Linked DNA regions of Homo sapiens: region 1 is linked to region 2. Evidence: fine-mapped expression QTL. Tissue or cell type: minor salivary gland. Region 2 holds a variant in brackets; the other region holds the start of a gene. All regions are shown on one strand. Distances are from middle to middle.

Region 1 (8,110 bases), 26 kb before region 2:
AATACCTTGATTTTAATCCACATAGAATTTTGTTGACTTCTGACTTACAGAACTGTAAAATAAAACATTTATGTTGTTTAGACCACTAAGTGTGTGGTAATGTGTTATGTTAGCAATGGAAAACTAATATATAAGGTAAAAAGAAACAACATATACATGGAAGCTTACCAATGATCAATATTCTCTAGGGTATACCAACCAGGGTTAAACATGAGGTCATATGAATAGTAATTTCCCATACTCTGTCGCCGCCTTTAGTTGGTTGCAGAACCTCTGTTGTTTCTTAAAAGATCTTTTCCCCAACTGTCCCTGAAGATCCTCAAGATAGTAGAGGACCTCATAAATTTTCACAATCCCAAACCCTAGCGGCTACATAGAATCCACTCTTTTCCTTGTCTTAGATTTCTTCTGGTGATGTCTATTGTTCTCTAAATGCCTGGGAACTCCATTTACATGCCAGGCATTGCTGCAGCAGTGACTCTACTGCTGACTTTGTTTATAATTTTCATCAGAGTGACTCTGATCCTCTGTGCCAGTGCAAGCCTTTCAGGTAAGCCTCAGGCCCATGTGGAGCTATCTCCTACTGGTAGCCACTGCTTGCCCTTTTGTGAAAGTTGAACTGCATTTCCAGATAAAGTTGGAAGAATTCACCTGCCCCGCTTTTGTGTTATATTCCCTTGAAAACAGTTCCAAAGCAAAGCTACCTTGTGTACACAAGGTCTCATACGGTTTTGTTGTTGCTGTTGTATTTTTCTGTGAAATAACTCTACCAGTTGTACTTGAGAGTCCCCTCTCACTAGGACTCTGTTATTGCATACGGGCTTGGCCAAAGGACATTGAGATGCAGACCCAGCGCTGAACCCCAAGCTATTCTTGTTAGTGGAAAATACCTTTGTGCTTTGATTTTCTTTTTTCTTATAATGAGTGACTTTCCAGGAATTCCTCCATGCCTTCCGTAAATAGATTCCACCCCACTAAACCAGTAGATTCCTTCCTCACAACTGCAGAATCATACAAGAGGGAATATACTAAGTAACACATGGATGGATGGCTTTAACAGTTTAGAGGAGCGCAGGATCTGGCAGTTAGGATTCATGTAGGCTAAACTGGAGAAGGAAGAGATCTCCAGTGTATATTTCAGTGTGACTTCCCACTACCGTTCAGTACTTAATCTGGACAGAGAGATAATGGGCATTCAACAAATTCCTATGGAATTAATAATGAGGCAGAAATAACGATCTGGTAGAAACACTGGGGCCAAAGCATTGTTGACAATGAGTTGGAGGCTTATAAATTTGAGATGGAGGTAATAATTGAAATTACAAGGGAATGAAAACTTGAAGAAAAAAGAGAAATAATGGATATTCTAACCATCTTATTAATGAGTATAATGTGTGGGACTAGCTATACATATATAACTCCTGGTGAATGTCTGCTGTGTAACTCAGACTATTTGGTACTTAGTTGTTTCTGTGTGTGGGCATTATCATTTCCAGTGTTTTCTCTAACTCAAAATGTTTTTAATGTATAATTTATGTGATTTGCTCAAAAAAATTGGAGAGAAAAATTTTGCCTCCCCTTTCTGGATTGTATTTTGGTTTCTTTTTTAACTTCTATTTCTATAATAGTAACTAGATTTTAGACAAAATTCTGTGCATCAGAATGAGTATCTAGCAATACATTGCAGAAATTTTAAAAATGAGTAAACCACTTTATCTGTCATGGAGGAGCATGCTTGGGGAGGTAGAGTAGAAAATTACATAATATGAAGTTCCAATCAGTTCATTTGGATTTGATGTATCACTTATGACATAAAGAATCTAAAGAACAACTAACTGATGAGATGTCTTCCTTTCCCCTTTTGAGGTAAAATTCACATAACATAAAATCAACCATTAGCCATTTAAAAATGAACAGTTCAGTGGCATTAAGTACAATTCATCCTGTTTTTAAAAAGCCCTGAAGGAAGTGAAAATGCCAATAGAGAAAGCTCTAGAGAACTGACATACCTCAATCTCTAAATATGCCACATTACATTGACTCAAGTTCTTTTTGCTCTAATGACTGTCAGTTTGTGTTTGGTATGCGTTCAATGCTGAATAAATTGGTCACATATTCAAGTTACCTATGACTCTTATTTCTTTAATTGAATTTGTATTAGGTGTTAATATCTAACAGAATTCCTTCAGCTATCTATTGTCTTAAGTATTTTCTATTATTTTAGTTTCCATGTGGACGGGTAACATAACTACCTTGTTCACTGTTTCCCCAGAGGAGAACCCAGGACATAATGGGATATATGTGTGTGTGTGTGTGTGTGTGTGTGTGTGCGCGCGCGCGCGCGCGCGGGCTCTAAATGAATGATCTATTACGTAATCTTGGGGTTTTAATTCTCATTAATTCCTTATAGGTTCCCCCACGTCTCCGCAGTGGTCAGTACTTTTTTTTTTCTTTTTTTTTTTTTTTTTTCTGAGACGGAGTCTTGCTCTGTCGCCCAAGCTGCAATGCAGTGGCACAATCTCGGCTCTATGCGATCTCTGCCTCCTGGGTTCAAGAGATTCTCCTGCTTCAGCCTCCTGAGTAGCTGGGATTATAGGCGCCCGCCATCACGCCTAATTTTTGTATTTTTAGTAGAGACGGGGTTTCGCCACGTTGGCCAGGCTGGTCTCGAACTGCTGACCTCAGGTGATCCACCCGCCTTGGCCTCTCAAAGTTCTGGGATTACAGGCGTAAGCCACCACTCCCGTCCCTTCAGTATTATCTTGTAACACCCCGGCAAAGCCTTCAGGTGGAGAATGTTCCTGGCGCGGAATAATCCACCTGAATGTGAATCCTGACCATTTTTAGGCGCCAATGGAGGCCGCTGCTACGGGGCCGGCCGTGAGGTGGCGCTGTTGCCCTGTATCGTGACTCCGTTTTCACCTGGACTGGAGTCACCGTGATACCTGACATCTAGCAATCACTAGAGTAGGAAATGAGTATAGATCAGCAACAAGTCCAGCCTTTACAGTTGCAGCAGAGGTTTCCTGTGGCTCGAGTGTGGCGAGTCCCGGAAACCTCGGAGCCCGCAGACTTCCCTTCGCGGGAGCCCGCCCGAACTCCATCCTTTGCCGGCAGCCACGCCCCGCAGTGGGAAGGAGGGACTGAAAAGCATTTCCTTGAGGCTGGCACACCTTGCCCTACCCAACCCTGTCATTATTTCCCCTCCGACTGGGCCGGTGCCATCGGAAACCGGAGTGACCAGAGGAGGGACACGGTAGTGAACGGGGTATGGGGGGCGGGCGCGGCGGGGAGGGTAAAGAAGGTGGGAAGGGAATGGCAGCGAGGCAGCTGGGGGAGGACTTTGCAGTTGGGGAGGGAGAAAAAGGGAAGAGGCTGGGAGCGGAACGGGTGTTTATGTGAACAAACAGAAATCACCAAGTGAATTAACCTGTGTTTCTTCGGAACCAGCATCTTGTGGGGTTTGGCTTCTGTGTTTCTATATGATAAGGGAGTAAACCTGACTCAGCAGATTTGGTGCAGAGAGAAACATGAGAAAACCCAGGAATGGGGGACCTCTGTTTATTCCTGGAGAGGGGGCCATCAGGAGAGGGGGAAGGGAAAGAATGAGGTTACAGGAATTACTTGTCAGAGGACTGCATAGCCTTTCAGACCATGGAATCGTTGCTTTCAGCTTCGGCTTCCTCATCTGCAAAGCATAAATACGGTAATTACTTTCCAGGGTTGTTGCGATATTTAAATGAGATATCAATAACCATGCTTTAAAAGTGTACAGCCTGATGTGCTATCCCTTGTTGACTGAATCTCTGTTTTCTTTCCTTCTTTTTATTTGGGGTGGGGAGTGGGGGAGGGAGTCTTGCTCTGTCACTCAGGCTGGAGTGCAATGGCGCGATCTCGGTTCACTGCAACCTCCGCCTCCCAGGTTCAAGCGATTCTCCTGCCTCAGCCTCCCAAGTAGCTGGGATTACAGGCTCCCACCACCACGGCCGGCTATTTATTTTTTTGTATTTTTAGTAGAGACGGGGTTTCACCATTTTAGCCTCTGTTTTCTTTTCAATGTCTTTTTTCCTCTTTCATTTTTCTCTATCAACCCTTCATCCCCCCTTTCTTTCTTTCATTTATGCGATTGTTGCTTCCTTCTGTAATGGGTCCTCTCCACATTGGAGTTTCTTATACCTATGAGACCACACTTCCTTCCCACTCGGTGGGAAGTAGTGGCAATAAAGGAGTCGAGTTACTGTAATGTGCAGCACAGCTCAACTGAAATACACCTGGAAACAGAACTCTGTGCTGTCTACCTGGTTTTTCCCCCTCAATGCACCGGAATCTCCACTGACAGCTAGCTAGGGGGCAGCTAGGTCTTTCAATGAGACATCATGAAGTATTTGCTTCAATGAAAATCATATACTTTTTCGTTCAGTGCCTCCATTACTGTGTGAGTTTGCTAGGGCTGCTGTAACAAGGTACCACAAACTGCATGGCTTTTGGCACCAGGCACCAGGGACTGATTTTGTGGAAGACAATTTTTTTCACAGATGCCGATGAGGTTGGCGGGAGATGGTTTCAGAATGAAACTGTTCCACCTTACGTCATCAGGCATTAGAGTCTCATAAGGAGTTCGCAACCTATATCCCTCACATGAGCAGTTCACAATAGGGTTCACGCTCCTATGACAATCTAATGCTAGTGGGCACGGTGGCTCACACCTGTAATCACACCACTTTAGGAGGAGTTGGTGGGTGGATCGCCCTGAGTTCAGGAGTTTGAGACCAGCCTGGGCAACTTGGCGAAACCCATCTCTACCAAAAATACAAGAGGAAGAAAAAGAAAGAAAATCTAATGTCGTGGCTTATCTGACAGGAGGAGGAGCTCAGGAGGCAATGACAGCGATGGGGAGTGGCTGTAAATGCAGATGAAGCTTTGCTGGCTCACCTGCCTCTGATTTCCTGCTGTGCACCCCGTACCTGTCGGCGCCCCGGGTGTTGGTGACCTCTGGCTTAAACAACGAAATGATTTTCTCACAGTTCAGTAGGCTGGCTATCCAAAACTAACATGTTATGAAGCCTGCATCTATTCCAGGCCTCTTTCTTTGGCTTGTAGATGGCTGTCTTGATGTTTATATGGTGTTCTCCCTGTATATATGTCTCTGAATTTCCCCTTTTTATAAGGACACTAGTCTTATTGGATTAGGGTCCATCCTAATTACCTCATTTTAATTGATTATCTCTGCACTATCATCTCCCAATAAAGTTACATTATGAGTTACTGGGGGTTAGAATGTCAGCATATTAATTTTGAGAGGGTGTACAGTTCAACCCTTTAACAACTAATGTCTTTAATTATGCACAAGTTAGTTGAGCATTGCATGTATTTCAGTTTTCTCTGGCAGAAACTATTTCCCACCTGTCCCAAACCCTCACAACCAGTCCCAACCAACATGTGCTCCGAAGATCTGCCAGGAGTTATGTGATTCTGCAGCTCTGTTTTCTTTTAACCTGAGTGTGTACATTTCCTGTTGCCACTGTAACAAATTACCACAATGGTGGTGGCTTTAAACAACATAAAGTTTTATCTTACAGTTCTGGGGGTCAGAAGTAAAAATGGATGGGCAGGTTTCCAAATGGATGGTTCTTTTTGGAGGCTCTAAGGGAGAATCAATTTCCTTGCCTCCTTCAGTCTCTAGAGGCTGCTACAGTCCTTGGCTCATGGACCCTTCCTCCATCTTCAAAGCCAGGAATGGCCGGTAAAGTGTTTCTCATGTCTTATGCTGACGCTCACTTTTGCCTTTCTCACACTTAAGGATTCTTGTAATTGCACTGGACTCACTGAGTATTCCAGGGTAATCTTTCTATTTTAAGGTCAGTTGATTCATTCCATCTGTAACCTTAATTCCCCTTCGCTATTTCAACGCTATTAAAAATCAACATGGCCAGGCGTGGTGGCTCACGCCTGTTAATCCCAGCACTTTGGGAGGCTGAGGTGGGCGGATCACGAGGTCAGGAGATCGAGACCATCCTGGCTAACAAAGTGAAACCCCATCTCTACTAAAAATACAAAAAATTAGCTGGGCGTGGTGGCGGGCGCCTGTAGTCCCAGCTAATCAGAGGCTGAGGCAGGAGAATGGCGTGAATCCAGGAGGCGGAGCTTGCAGTGAGCTGAGGTCGCGCCACTGCACTCCAGCCTGGGCGACAGAGCCAGACTGTCAAAAAAAAAAAAAAAAAAAAAATCAATATATTCATAGGTTCTGGAGATTAGGACATGGACATCTTTGGGAAGCCATTATTCTGCCTACTGTACCTGAGCTTTCCCAACTGGGTATTCTTTATTTTTATTATATGTATATTTAAAATTTATGTTTAATTAAAAAAATTAAAAATTATATATATATTTATCATATACATGTTGTTTTGAAATATGTATATATTGTGGAATAGTTAAATTAAGCTAATTAACATAGTATTATTTCACATATTTTTGTGATGAGAACACTTAACATCTACTGTCTTAGCAATTTTCAAGAATACAATACATAGTTATTAACTGTAGCCACCATGTTGTACAATAGATCTCTTGACCTTATTCCTCCTAACAAGGAGGAATAAGGTCATACCCTTTCATATCCTTTGACGTCTTTCTAACCCCTCGAATTCCCCCAACCTCTGGTAACCATCTTTCTATTCTCTACTTTTATGAGTTCAACTTTTTCAGATTCTACATATAAGTGAGTTCCTATGATATTTTTCTTTTCGTGCCTAGCTTATTTCACTTAACATAATATCTCCTGGGTTCATCCATGTTGTCAATTTCCATTTTTCAAAAGGCTGAATAATAGTTCATTGTGTTTATACTGTATGTATTTATACTTTATTCATTTATCCATTGATGGACATTTACATTGATTCCATCTCTTGGATATTGTGAACAATGCTGCAATAAACATGGCGTGCAGACAGCAGTATGTGAAATCAGACACACTGATTTCATTTTCTTGCTATCTATACACAGAAGGCAAAACATTGAGCCTTCAGAATAAAAGTAAGATAATATACTGAATAAAGAACATTATATACAAAAGTCAGATCACTATTGGATGTATACCGAATAGTGGGATTGCTGGATCATATAGTAGTTTACTTTTAATTTTTTGAGGAACTTTCATACTGTTTCCCTAACGGTTGTACTAATTTACATTCCCACCAACAGTGTGCAAGCATTCCCCTTTCTCTATATCCTCTCCAACACTTATTTTTCATCTTTTCGATAATAGCTATTCTAACAGGTATGAGGTAATAGCTCATTTTGGTTTTAACTTGCATTTTCCCTGATGATCAGTGATGTTGAATATTTTTTCACATATGTGTTGGTCATTTGTGTGTCTTCTTTTGAGAAATGTCTATTCAGGTCCTTTGTTCATTTTTAGTACAGTTATTTGTTTTCCCCCTATTGTTTTAGTTCCCTATGTATTTTGGATATTAATCACTTACCGGATATTAATCACTTCTCAGATATTTCTACCATTCCATGGGTTATCTCTTCACTCTGTTGATTTTTTCCTTGGTTGTGCAGAAATTTTTTAGTTTGATGTAACCCCATTTGTCTATTTTTGCTTTTGTTGCCTGTGCTTTTGGGTTTATGTCCAAAAAAACATTGCCTAGCCTAATATGATGGACCTTTTCTCTGTGTTCTCTTCTAGTACTTTCACAGTGTCAGATCTTACATTTAAGTCTTTAATCCATTTTGAGTTGATTTTTGTACATGGTGTTCTTTATTGAGTATATTATCTATTTTTATTCTGAAGGCTCAATGTTTTGCCTGCTGTGTATAGAAAGCAAAGAACTTTAAATCTTTTTTCTGAAGAAAAACAACCTGCTTAATGATGGAACAAAAAATGTGTCCCTATCGAACAGAAACCTGGGTACCATGTACTTGCTATATATACTGTTAAAAACTACTCCCCATTCCCCCTTGTACTTTTAGTATTATAGCTTAATCCTTTATGCCCCATTAGTTTCTATAGGTTATTTTTCTATAAAAATTTCTTGCAGATCCAATGCTATTTTCATAGATGAATTAGCTACTTATTTATTCAACAATCATATGAATTCTGATA
Region 2 (8,110 bases):
CACTGCGCCCGGCCCTGCTCCTGCACTTTCAGTTCACTGAATTGGTTTCCCAAATTTACTTAACATTTAGCAAGTCTTTGGGCAACTCTCATTTTATTGTGTCTGTGCTAAGAAGAAAGAAATTTTAGCTACATTTATGCTAATGCGTTGAAGGAAAGCCACACTCTCTTCAGACCACTGGGGTGGGGCAGTAGTAATCAAAAAGGGAAGCTTGATCAGGAGCACAAAGTTGGAACCACTGATTTGAAAAGTAATTATGTTATACAAATAAATTCTTGCTAGAAGAGGCACTTTTAGCTACTATCACTGAAGAACAATTTTACTTTCTTATTAATTCTCACTAGAATCCTCTGATGTAAGCAGGCAGAATTATCTCAGCTGTATAGGTTAGTAAACCAAGGCTTCAATAGATTAAGATAAATCCACCCCTAACTCTGACACTGGTTCTTTTATTCTTTCTCCTTTACTACAGTTGGATGGAGATGATACATTAACTTTGTTCCTGGGAGTCCCAACTTGGCTTTCTCCCAGGTCGGCAAGATAATGCCTTTAGCAAGCAACAATGAAGCTTGTTAAACTCAAGATTTTTTTTTTTTTTTTTTTTTTTTTTTTTGAGACAGAGTCTCTCTCTCTCCCTCAGTTGCCCAGGCTGGAGTGCAGTGGTGCGATCTCGGCTCACTGCAAGCTCCGCCTTGGGTTGATGCCATTCTCCTGCCTCCGCCTCCCGAGTAGCTGGGACTACAGGGGCCCGCCACCACGCCTGGCTAATTTTTTTGTATTTTTTAGTAGAGACGGGGTTTCACCATGTTAGCCAGGATGGTCTCGATCTCCTGACCTCGCGATCCGCCCGCCTCAACCTCCCAAAGTGCTGGGATTACCGGCGTGAACCACTGCTCCCGGCCTGAAGCCATTAATCTTGATTTAACGGTTGTACTTTGTCTTTAATTCTAAACACTAGTTCTTTAGGAAGATTGTTTTCCCTCTTGGTCTTTTTTTGTTACCATCAGCCAATTTTCTTTTGTATTTCTGCTATCAAACTTTTCTGCCTTGTAGCCTTTCTTCCTTTGCATGTTCTTATTATAAAATAACTAAGGCTTAATTCATTCCATTTGGAAAATAGAAAATAGAGGAAAAAATTATTAATAGTAACCATCATCACTGTTGCTGTAACATTCTAATATATTTTTCTTTGGGCTTCCCCTACACAGGTGTTTTTCCCAGTCAATTTCATTGTACTCTTGCCATATATACCTCATTAAAATGTGCCTTTTTACTTAACCCACTAACATTACAAATTGCTGTTTATTAAACATTTTTGTGAACGTAAATTTAATAAATGTGTAGTATTCCATGGTCCAACTGTATAAAAATAATTTGAAACATCCCTCCTTTTGATGAAAATTAGTTATTTTTTCTATTTTTAATTTTTTTCCAGAAAATTTCAAATATGTACAAAAGCAGCAAAAATAGTACAATGACTTCCCATGTATATCCCCTGAATTTGGCAATTTTGAACACATGGTTGATTTTTTTTTATTTACATCTCCACCTATTTCTCCTCCTTCAAGTCCATGAATTATATTTTGAAGCAAATCCCTATTTATATTTTCAAAAAAATTAAATAAGGGTCACAGATTTTCTTGTGTGTTCAGAAACATCTTCCATTTTTAAAAAACATACATATAATTGACATTTGGGAGAGAAATTACAGAGTCAAAATTATGAATGCCATTCAGGCTCTCAATTTTCATAGTGCCAAGTTATTTTTCATAAATGTAGACATTCAGATTCCTTGTCAGTCTTACAAGAGTCATTTTTAAATAAAACTATTTAGGGAATAAACATTAGTTTTCAAATCTTCTTTTCTGCTGGGTGTGGTGGCTCACACTTATAACCTCAGCACTTTGGGAGGCTGAGGGTGGGAGGATCACTCAAAGCCAGGAATTTTACATCAGCCTGGGCAACATGGCAAGGCCCCATCTTTACAAAAAAATTAAAAATTAGCCACCCGGGAGATCAAGTCTGCAGTGAGCCAAGATCACATCACTGCACTCTAGCCTGGACAACAGAGTGAGACCCCAGCTCAAAAAATTTAAAAATAAATAAATAAATAAATAAATAATATTTTGTCTTAAATGGATTGGCAAAAAATGTATCTTGTTTTATTTTAAAGTATTTTTAAAATTACTAGTTAAGATAAAAATCTTTCATCTTAGTTCAACATGCTTCCATATTTGTTAAACATTTTGTTTCAGTGAACTCATTTACTTTTGTTTTTCACGTTTTTGACTATTTATTTATTGGCATATTAGTGGTTTTCTCATTACTATAAAAGTACTATGTTTTTATTTGTTTATTGATTGATGTTTCCATTGTGATTTTTTTTTCTGTTGGAAGAAAGTTTTTTGTTTAAGCTTAGGAAGTTATCACAAACCCAATATAATTTATAATGTTAAGTTTTTTATGTCTCTTAAAGCATCTAGCTTTTTTCCCAAAATTTATTTTGTGTACAGGTGAATCAAAAATATAATTTTTGTTATCAAACAAGTAGTCCATTGCCTAAATTCCATTTGATGAATAATCTATCTTAGTACTTCTCAACCCCAGCTGTATGTTAGTATCTCCTGGGAAGCATTTCCTTGATTGAAGCTGATATCTGAAGTCATAATCTATGGGGTTTATAATCATCATAATCTCTAAGAGGAGTGGTGTATTAGTCCGTTTTTATGCTGCTGATAAAGACATACCTGAGACTGGGCAATTTACAAAAGAAAGAGGTTTAATGGACTTACAGTTCTGAGTGGCTGGGGAGGCCTTACAATCATGGCAGAAGACAAGGCAGAGCAAGTCACATCTTATGTGAATGATGGCAGGCAAAGAGAGAGAACTGTCTTGTGCAGGGAAACTCCCCTTTATAAAACCATCAGATCTCGTGAGACTTATTCACTCTCACAAGCACAGGAAAGACCTGCCCCCATGTTTCAATTACCTCCCACTTTGTCCCTCCCACAACACATGGGAATTCAAGATAAGATTTGGGTGGGGACACAGCCAAAACATATCATTTTACTCCTGGCCCTTCCCGAATCTCATGTCTTCACATTTCAAAACCAATATTGCCTTCCCAACCGTCCCCCAAAATCTTAACTCATTTCAGCATTAACTCAAAAGTCCACAGTTCAACATCTCATCTGAGACAAAGCAAGTCACTTCCACCTGTAAGCCTGTAAAATCAAAAGCAAGTTAGTTATTTCTTAGATACAATGGGGATATAGACATTGTGTAAATACAGCTGTTCCACAGGGAGAAATTGGCCAAAACAAAGGGGATACAGGCCCCATACAAGTCTGAAATCCAGCAGACCAGTCAAATCTTAAAGCTCCAAAATGATCTTTGACTCTATGTCTCACATCCAGGTCATGGTGATTCCAGAGGGGGGTTCCCATGGTCTTGGGCAGCTCTGCTGCTGAGGCTTGACAGGGTATAGCCCCACTCCTGGCTGCTTTCATGGGCTGGTGTTGAGTGTCTGCAGCTTTCCCAGGCACATGGTGCAAGCTGTTGGTGGATCTACCATTCTGGGTTTTGGAGGATGGTAACCCTCTTCTCGTAGCTCCACTAGGTGGTGCCCCAATAGGGACATTGTGTGGGGGCTCGACCCCACATTTCCCTTCTGCACTGCCCTAGCAAAGGTTCTCCATGAGGGCCCCGCCCCTGCAGGAAACTTTTGCATAGGCATCTGGGCATTTCCATACAGCCTCTGAAATCTAGGCAGAGGTTCCCAAGCCTTAATTCTTGACTTCTGTGTACCCACAGGCTCAACACCACATGGAAGCTGCCAAGGCTTGGGGCTTTCACTCTCTGAAGCAACAGCCCAAGCTGTACCTTGGCCCTTTTAGTCACAGCTGGAGCAGCTGGGACACAGGGCACCAAGTCCCTAGATTGCACATAGCAGAGGGACCCTGGGCCCAGCCCATGAAACCATTTTATCCTCCTAAACCTCTGGGCCTGTGATCAGAGGGGCTGCCTCAAAGGTCTCTGACATGCCCTGGAGACATTTTCCTCATTGTCTTGGTGATTAACATTTGGCTCCTTGTTACTTATGCAAATTTCTGCAGCTGGCTTGAATTTCTCCTCAGAAAATGGGATTTTCTATTCTATCACATTGTCAGGCTGCAAATTTTCCAAACTTTTGTGCTCTGTTTCCCTTATAAAACTGAATGCCTTTAACAGCACCCAAGTCACCTCTTGAATGCTTTGCTTCTGAGAAATTTCTTTGTCAGATACCCTAAATCATCTCCCTCAAGTTCAAAGTTCTACAGATCTCTAGGGCAGGGGCAAATGCCACCAGTCTGTTTGCTAAAACATAACAAGAGTCACTTTTGCTCTGGTTCCCAACAAGTTTCTCATCTCCATCTGAGACCACTTCAGCCTGGATTTCATTGTTCATATCATTATCGGCCTTTTGGTCAAAGTCATTCAACAAGTCTCTAGGGAATTTCAAACTTTCCCACAGTTTCCTGTCTTCTTCTGAGCCCTCCAAACTGTTCCAACTTCTCCCTGTTACCCAGTTCCAAAATCACTTCCACATTTTTGGCTGTCTTTTCAGTAGCACCCTACTCCTGGTACCAATTTACTGTATTAATCCATTTTCACGCTGCTGATAAAGACATACATGAAACTGGGCAATTTACAAAAGAAAGAGGTTTAATGGACTTACGGTTCCAAGTGACTAGGGAGGCCTCCCAATCATGGTGGAAGGCAAGGAGCAACAAGTCACATCTTACGTGGATGGTGGCAGGCAAAGAGAGAGAACTTGTGCAAGGAAACTCCCCCTTATAAAGCCATCAGATCTTGTGAGACTTATTCATTATCATGAGAACAGCATGGGAAAGACCTGGCCCTATGATTCAATTACCTCCCACTGAGTCCCTCCCACAACATATGGGAATTCAAGATGAGATTTGGGTAGAGACACAGCCAAACCATATCAAGTGGGAAATGAACA[T/C]CAGGATTGATATTTTTTAAAAATGCCTCCTAGGAGATTCTAATGTGCTCTCTGGTTTGAGAACCACTCATCTGCTTATTTTGATTCTTGCTGACTTCTTTATATTAAAGTCCTAAATATGTGTCTCTTTTTCTGGGATACTTATGTGTTCTATTAATCTATCTCTCTGTTTTTCAGTGTGTGTGGGTGTGTGTGTTTAGGCTTTGTAAAACATTTATGCCTGATACAGGCCTCTCCATACCAAACTTTGCTTTGTTTTTTTTAGAATGAGAGATTACTGCATGTTGGGGTATTACCAGTTCCCTTTCTTATCTTGCTGGAGCCCTAAGTTTCCAAAGAAATCAACTGTGAAATCTCTCTCTGAACTCCTCTTTTCAGTCCTCTCATTCATATAGGTCGCAAAGATCATAGAAGAGCCCCCTAAACACATTTTCTCCACATCCTCACCACCTATTCATTCCCAGAACCACCCTGCTCTCTGGCCACTGCACTATAGCTATTCTTTCTATGATGGGTGACCTCCATGTTGCCTGTATCTGCTACTTATTGTTTTCCTGACCTGTCATCAGATTTTAGCCCAGCTGTTGTCCATGCCCCTCTCCTTTGCTTCCACAACAGCACAAACTCTTGGTTCCCCTTTTACTTCTCTAGTTTTTCCTTCTTAGGCCCTCTTTGAGTTTCCCCCTGGACCCCAATTCCTCTTCCTTCATGTAGCCCTTATCCGTTGGAACTCCATGGATTCTTTCCTAGGCCCTCTTTTCCTCTCTTCTCTTTTTCCTTTTTGTTCATTTTTTCCTCTTTCTCTCTTATTCACTTTCAAGCTTTCAATATTATCTAATGACTCCCAAATATTTATCTCTGGTCCAGACTTCCCTTATGAATCCTAAGAACTGTACAACCAAATGCTTTTTTCTAATATTCTACTTAAAAGTCACACTGGCATCTTAAATCAAAATGTCCAGAACAACTCATCATCTCCTCTTCTTTGATTTCTCCTTCTCCTTCTTACCTTCTACAACCACTGTGTCCTGTTGGTTCAATCTCCTCAAGGTTTCCAATCCATTATTTTTCTTTTTTTTACTGTCACTACTGTAATCCAAAAAATGATTATGAAATTATTAGTTTCACAATTGATATTCTCGTATGTATTTATTATCACCTGCAATTTATTACTCAATTGCTGCAAAACTAATACTCATTTTTACTTTTCAATTTGAAATGATTAAAGGTTCACAAGTAGTTGCAAAAATAGTATAGAATCCAATGTAACAATTACCAATTTTCCCAATGGGAACATCTAAATAACTGTAGTAAATTATCCAAATTATGAAACTGACAATGGCACAGTATAATGAACTAGAATGTAGAGTTTCCTGGGATTTCAGTTTTTGCATTCACACATTATCTTTTTCCTCTCTGTGCATAGTTCTTTGATATTTTATCACATGTATAGACTCATGTAATTTTCACCACAGTCAAGATACAGAATTGTCTGTCACCATAAAGAAACTCCCTCATGCTACCCCTTCAAAGTCACACCTTCTCCCTGTTCCTACTGGTAAACACTGATCTATTTTCTGTCTCTCTAATTTTGCCATTTTGGAAATATTATACGGATGGAACCATACAGCATGTAACCTTTTGAGACTGGCTTTTTCCACTCAGCATAAAGTCCTTAAGTTCCATCTAAGTGTTGCATGTAGGAATAATTTGTTCCTTCTTATTGCTAAGTAGTATTCCAAATAATTTTTTTTTTCTAAAATACAAAATGGACCATGTCACTCTATTTAAAGCACTTCAGTGATACTTAGAATAAAACAAGCAATGTTTAGCATGGCCTAAAGGCTCATTATGATCTGCCTCTCGCCTACCTGCACAGTGCCATCTCTTCGTGTTTTCTCCTCTCTTGTTACTGTCCAGGCCCACTGACCTTCCAGTTATGAGAATGTATCAAGCTCTGTTCCCATCCAAGGCCTGGATATTCCTCCTCTCTTGCCTTGTGGCTGTGCCCACCTTTATCTAGTCAGCTCCTACTTATCATTTGCTTAAATACTGTTTACTTAAAGAAACTTTTTTTGACTTCCTTCCTATTGCCCCGTTTTTATAGCACCCTAAACTTCTCCTTCATAGCAAAACATATTTAATAATTTTTATGATTAATTATTTAACATCTGAGTGAATGACTTGGTATAAGGCTGGCCCCCCAAGGAATGATGTGAGATAAACTAACTAGATTGTAGAAGTGGAAGAAGTAGAGCTGTCTTGAATGGACAGTTCAGTTACAGAGCAAAATTCAGGCAAGAATTAGCAACTCAGGTTTTCAGTGTGGCCAGCAGAACATAAAGGTAATGGGTTCAGGGGTGTGAATGAAATAGGAATGAAGTAGAGTGGAGCAGGATGATGGTCAGTAAAGAGGCATTCAACCATTGTGGTTGCATTTATCTGGGAGGCTTTTATATTAGTAGCAAGAGCTCAGTAATCAGAGTATAAAGTAAAATTTCAATCTCACTTAGGATTGATTTAGGCAAAGAGAGGACAACACGGCCCCATCGACTTGTGTGGCATTCAGGTGAGGGCTCCAGATTTGAGAGGGTTTTGTTAATAGGCATGAGTAAGTGGGCAGATTTGGGGAAGTGGATAAAGGCTACATCTTCCCCAAATTGGAGAGTATGTAAGATAAATAGGATGAAGAGGACTGAGACTGCTGATCTCCGTAATGCCCCCGTCAGAATTGGTTCAGGATCTGGGTGGAAATTAGCCAGCATATAAGTGATATCAGCGGAACCAGTACAAGGAGCTGAAAAATTTAGAGACAGAAGAAATCAGGCAGGTGCTGATATATTTTCCCTGATGAATACCATACCACTATCTAGCATTCTTTCCATTTCTGTACCTTACTTTACAGCATTATGCTATTTGATTTATCTGGTTTAAATCTCTCTTTCTCAACATGATTGTTAAATTCAGATATCTACTGGCAGCTGTACTATTTCTGCTATCAAATGACACCTAGTTGAAGTATAAAAAGTTTTAAATCCTGCATTAACTTTTTGATTACTTTAACTCCCTCTCTGTGCATAGAGTATACTTACATGCACAAATATT

The links. PIP is the estimated chance that this variant, and not a neighbour inherited with it, causes the effect.
Region 1: it holds the start of STYK1, and the variant in region 2 is fine-mapped to the expression of STYK1 in minor salivary gland (GTEx, PIP above 0.99).

The regions. Positions count from the first base shown.
Region 1 is chr12:10,669,112-10,677,221 of GRCh38, reverse strand. It overlaps STYK1 (serine/threonine/tyrosine kinase 1), which reads left to right and starts at 3,170. Exons shown (of 11, transcript NM_018423.3): 1 at 3,170-3,256.
Region 2 is chr12:10,642,623-10,650,732 of GRCh38, reverse strand. The region is part of intron 1 of STYK1 (serine/threonine/tyrosine kinase 1); the gene reads left to right. Among named protein-coding and RNA genes, the nearest start is that of STYK1, 27 kb to the left of the region's middle. The variant T/C (reference allele first, on the strand shown) is at 5,006.